2 separate regions of the Homo sapiens genome follow, and region 2 is linked to region 1. Evidence: fine-mapped expression QTL. A gene starts in region 1. The other region holds a variant in brackets. All regions are shown on one strand. Distances are between the middles of the regions.

Evidence for each region. PIP is the estimated chance that this variant, and not a neighbour inherited with it, causes the effect. A credible set is the group of variants that fine-mapping cannot tell apart.
Region 2: its variant is the best candidate, but not a certain one, in a credible set for the expression of FN3KRP in monocytes after LPS (Fairfax 2014, PIP 0.62).

What each region holds. Positions count from the first base shown.
Region 1 is chr17:82,715,442-82,718,336 of GRCh38, reverse strand. FN3KRP (fructosamine 3 kinase related protein) reads right to left here and starts at 1,631. Exons shown (of 6, transcript NM_024619.4): 1 at 1,441-1,631. The coding sequence starts at 1,581. LOC101929552 (a long non-coding RNA gene) reads left to right here and starts at 2,084. Exons shown (of 2, transcript NR_136400.1): 1 at 2,084-2,770. RefSeq lists silencers at 1,305-1,394, 1,475-1,554, 1,575-1,814.
Region 2 is chr17:82,934,709-82,937,603 of GRCh38, reverse strand. TBCD (tubulin folding cofactor D) reads right to left here. Exons shown (of 39, transcript NM_005993.5): 35 at 244-333. Among named protein-coding and RNA genes, the nearest start is that of ZNF750, 96 kb to the right of the region's middle. The variant G/C (reference allele first, on the strand shown) is at 1,488.

The DNA.
Region 1 (2,895 bases):
TTGGGTCCCCCTGGCTCACCACACAGCAGTGATCCCTAGAGTAGAAGTCAGAGCCAGCGGCCTTTCCTTTCCTCCTGCTACACACACCACTGCCCTGCCTGCTCTCCCATCCTCATCTGGGGCTCCACCCTTACACACACAGACACATAACACACACACACAACATATACAGACACACAACACACACACAACACATACAGACACACAACACACACAACATACGACTTACAGACACACCATACACACACAACACACAGACACACACACACAACATACACAGCAGTGATCCCCGCAGAACAGGTCAGGGCCAGCGGCCTTTCTTTTTCTCCTGAGACACACACCACTGCCCTGCCCACTCTCCCATCCTCACCTGGGGCTCCACCCTTACACACACACAGACACACAATACATACACACAACATACAAACATTACAAACATACACACATACAACGTACACACACACAACATACACATAGACACACACACTCTCCTCGTGCTCCTGACTTCCAGCTGTCTTCATCCTTCTTTCAGTTCTTCAGAGTCCCCACCTCCTCAGCCTCAGAGCCCCACCACAGCTGCCATGTCACCGCTGCTAGGAACACTCTTTTTTTTTTGAGACGGAGTCTCATTCAGTCACCCAGCAGGCTGGAGTGCAGTGGCGCGATCTCGACTCACTGCAACCTCTGCCTCCTGGGTTCAAGCGATTCTTCTGCCTCAGCCTCCCGAGTAGCTGGGATTACAGGCGCCCGCCACCACGCCCAGCTAATTTTTGTATTTTTAATAGAGACGGGGGTTTCACCTTGTTGGCCAGGCTGGTCTCGAACTCCTGACTTCGCGCTCCACCCACCTCTGTCTCCCAAAGTGCTGGGATTACAGGCGTGAGCCACCGCGCCCGGCCCGAGAATGAGTCTAACAGAAGGACAGAGCATGCCAGGGTGTGGTGAGGCGCAGCAGCTGGCCTGGGGGCAGCACCTTCGCCCCGTTTCACAACGTACTGACCGAGGCTCACGGGGGATGGACACCTCCAGAGTCACTTAAGCTGAGGACTTAAGCAGCTTCCCCGGCTAGAACGACCCCACTTAACCAGCACCGCAGGGCAGGAACCCCGGGAGCAAGACTGCAGCAGCCAGTCCCGCCCCATTTCACGTAGCGCCCCCGAGAGAAAGTTCACGGAGAACAGGAGGTGTGGGGCGGCCGCGGTTCCTGCTCCGGACAGTTCCCCGCAGGTGCAAACTCCTCCGGACGCCCCGGACGCTTCCGCCGCCCCCGTTCACCGCTCGCCCCGCGCAAAGGGTTCCCCGCAAGGGGCGGCGGCGGCAGTCCCGGGAGAGCCACCCACGGCCTCCGGCGGGAGAAGCCCAGGCCGCGCCCCGCGCCGAGGCCCGCGACCCTCTCCGGAAAGAAACCGGTCCCCCGGCCCGCCCGACCCGCTGCCTGACCTCCGCCTTGGGGTTCACTTTCACGAACACTCGTCCTTGATCCGTGTCGTAGCTCCGGCCCTGGCTGATGCACCCGCCCCCCGAGTGGCCCGTGGCCCTGACAGAGCTGCAGCCCAGCTCGCGCCTCAGGAGCTCCTCCATGTTCCCGCCGCGGCCGCGGACCCGCCCCGGATCTGGCGGAGACTCGAGAGACGGCGGCCGAGCGGGCAAACATGAGTCCGCGCGAGGATTGGGCGGGGGGCGGGTGGGGGCGGGGCCCGGCCGCAGAGACAAGCGCTAGGATTGGGTGGCGGGAAGGGGCGGGCGTGGCCGCAGAGATGAGCGCTGGGATTGAGGGGCGGGAAGGGGAGGGGCCGGGAGGCAGGTAGGCGCGGGGGATTGGGTGGGGGTGAGATGACGTCAGGGGGCGGGGCCTGACCGACCCCGACCCAGACGGTTTGGGTTCAACTCTCCTGCACAAAATAAGTGGAAATGCTGATGGAAATAGTTAGAATATATTTTCTAAAGAGCTGACCCACTAGCAAGGGGCATCAGCCCAAGGTCTGGGTGCCGGGAGCCCAGAATGTTAAGATTGCTTTCGCCCGGGCGTTTGCTGAACCCGAGGAACAGAGCTCCTGATGTGGGGAGTGGCGGGCGCGCTCGGGGTGCACGTGCAACGGAGACACCGCCCCTAAACCTGGGGCCCTGAGGCTAACAGCTAACAGTGGCCCTGCCGTTACGGCCAGTGTCAGGTGCCAGCTGGGCTGGACCAGGAATTCCCAGAAACCTGGCAAGGCATGATTTGGGGTGGGTCGTGCTGAGGGCCACACCATCCGCTTCCCCGCTTCTGAGGCCTTCCGACCTGGGCTGAGCCCGGCTACCCGAGTCCCGGGGTCTCCGGCTCACAGACTTCTCGGCCTCCGTAATTGCAAACGCCAGCTCCCCCAGTCCATCTCCTGTCCTGGATCTACGTCTATATCCTACTGGATCCGTCTCTCTGGAGAACCCTAATACAGCTGTCAACACAAGGATGAACTAACTACAAGAAGGCCTGAATAGGAACTCTCCCAGGGGACGAAGAGGTTTCAGCCTTCAGCAAAGGATGGTTCATAGAAACCGTTCGCATAGTCGGCCCTCCACGGACTGCAACCCTAGTTAATATTACCTACAGTAAACAAAAAATTCAAGTATAGATTTTAGTCTAAAGCAAATAGGAAATGTCGCTTCCCTGGACGTTGGGAGAAGCAAACACGAATCCTCTCCTGAGGCCGGAAGCGGTGGCTCACGCCTGTAATCCCAGCACTTTGGGAGGCTGAGGCGGGCGGATCATTTTATAACTATCTATTAAATGGTACATATGTGTGTGTTCACGCACTTTTCTGTGTGTATACCGCATTTCATAATTTTAAAAAGCAAAAAAGATTAGCGGGGCGTGGTGGCGGGCGCTTGTAATCCCAGATACTCGGGAGGCTGAGG
Region 2 (2,895 bases), 220 kb before region 1:
GGGCAGAGCGCGAGGGCAGCAGAGGCAGAGCTCGCCTGTTCCCGCGGGAACTCCCTCCACCAGCACCTGGGCTGCCTCACCTCCCATTGCGACTGCTTTGAACATTGGAATGCACGATCTTAGGTTAGCTTGAGGAGTAACACTAACTGCTCCTCTCCCGCCTGGAGCCGTGGACTCCTGCCCTCAGCCAAGGGAGGCTGCGCCCTGCCATTCCGTCTAAGGCCAGCAGCACTTGAAACTCACACTGCGATGCCTGACAGGAGCTTCTGGATATCTTTTGAATTCTTGATTTCTTTCTTACAGAGCGCAAGCAACTTCACAGCAAAGGGGTGGCTGGAAGAACAACACACACTTTAGAGATGAGCTTTCACAGGCAGCCCCGGGATGCACACTTTTTCTGTCTCAAAGAAGGTCAACTCCGTCCTCCCAGTGGCTCAGTCCAAGAAGCCTGCAGCCCTGAGGCCCCTCTGCCAGCAAGTCCGCTGGTCCCCATCCCAATACCTCCACAGGCCGGCCTGGTCCCTAGCGGCTGTGCCACCACCTGGCCGGCCTCTGCTGTCTCTTGCTCTCTTGCCTGTGGTGCAGCAGCCCCCACGGGGCCCCACCTCCCTTTCCAGGCCCCAGGGTCTGTCCCCAACACAGCGGCGGCCAGGATGCCCGTGCTCCTCCACCACTCCCTCCAGAGGCTACCTGGCCTGGGCTGCTGCAGAGCCGGGGGAAACTGCCGACACACAGAGGACACACAAGGCTGTGCAGTGTTGTTTTGAGCCTTCAGTGGCAGCAGGGACAAGGGCTGAGGCTTGGTGCTGACAAAGGCACAGCCCTGATGAGCAGCTCTGAGAGGGCACCTGGAAGGCCACTCCAGGGAGGAGAAGGTGCGCACCTCCCTCTCTCAGTGGGGAATGCAGCCAAGCTCCAGCCACCCAACAGGCCAGGAAACCCTCACTGCTGACCGTGAGTCAAGGAGACCCCAGGCTGCTGCTACCCTCTCCTCAGGTGCCCAGAAAAGGCAAACTAAGGTCCTGCCTGCCAAAGCACAGGCTTAGCCCAGACCTCGGCTTGCTCTGAGGTGCGACCCCTCAAACGCAACGTCCCGAGAGAACACAATACCAGACAAGTAAGAAGACAAAGAAACCCGCTCAGGTTGCAACTCAGACACACCCAGCCAAACAGGCAGGAAAAGAGCATTCAAGAGGATGAACACCGGGCACGGAAGGAAGGGCCGCAGGGAACGGCGAAGCGGAAAGCGCTACAAGCAGACGTGGAAACACGCGAGACAAAAAACCTACACCTGAAAAGACGCAAAACTCCACAATAAGAATTCCACAAATCACAGTTAAAAGTCATTTAGAGACATCTTCAGAGAGAATCAGCAGCTGGCAGGCGGGCCAAAGGTAATGAAGCAAAGAGAGAGGGAAAAGACGTGTGAAAATTGCAGAGGGGGTGACCGAGGGAAACACGTGAGCGTGATAATGACAGAAAAACCA[G/C]GGAAGGAGCAAACCTGGGCAGGGGGTGGGAAACCCGGGCCGTTTCCAGGGAGCACAGGCAGACTCAGAGGTAACACTCAAAAGCAACAACAGAAGCAAGGAGGAAGTGGGAAAATATTTTTAATGTGCTACAACGAAACAGCTGCCTGAATTCTATATACCCTCTGAAAATAATCTGCACATAAAATGGGAAAGCTTCACCGCAGCAGACCCCACTCGAGGAAATCCAAGGGAGTGTGCTCTAGGGAGAGGGAATGTGAACCCCGATGGGGGGGGTCCCAAAAGCAGTAAGTGATGAGAGACAAAGAAAGTAAAAACGTGGAAAATTCAAAGTAACGCAAATTACACATACCACAATGAACAGGAAAGTACGTACATCTAAGACAAAATATCCGACAATAGCAGCACATAACTCAAGACGGAAGCACGCGGAACCAACACGTTCTAATATCCTTGCTATTGTCCAATAAGGACAAAATGCTGAAAACTGGACTTCGCTAAGAATACGTGGTGTCATTTCTAATTTCTAGGGTAAGCGTTAACAGAAAAAAGTAAAATGTCCCAAACAAATATATGAAAACAATGGAATGACAAAAGCAATTCTACTAATCCAACAAAAAGCACAGGTGGGGGCGGGGAGGGGGCACTGGGAACGCAGCACAGGGAAAAGTCCTGTGAGTGGCAGGCTGAGAACCAAGGGGATTATAAAGGTCATGAAGGAGGCAGGTAAAAGCTACAGGCTGAATTTTTACAAAACCATACACTGTTCTAAGAGAGGCGTACAAAAACATACATGTATGAAGATACTGAAAGTAAAACGATGGAAAAAAGTATACAGTTCAAAGTCAAGTGAAGCAAGACAAAGAATGAGTGGAGCAAAAAGCATCCTAGAAATGGGTGATAAGGGCAAGATTCAGCCCACAAACACGCTTCAAAATCTGAAAAGCCAAAACTGACAAAACTGTAGAGAGAAATACAAAGCTGTATTCATAGCAGGACATGGCAGGAGGTATTTTCTCTACCATCCTATCTTGGAAAAAAAATTTTTTTTTTGAAACAGAGTCTGGCTGTGTTGCCCAGGCTGGAGCACAGTGGCTCAATCTCAGCTCACGGCAACCTTCGCCTCCCAGGCCCAAGCCGTACAGGCACCACCACACCCGGCTAATGTTTTTGTATTTTTTGTAGAGATGGGGTTTCACCAAGTTGGCCAGGCTGGTCTCAAACTCCGGAGCTCAAGTGATCCACTCGCCTTGGCCTCCCAAAGTGCTGGGATTACAGGCGTGAGCCATGGCGCCCAGGCTTATTTTGAAATTTTTAAGCCAGAAAAATATATGTCAATATTTTAGGCCAGGTACGGTGGCTCACGCCTATAATCCCAGCACTTTGGGAGGCAGAAGTGGGCAGATCA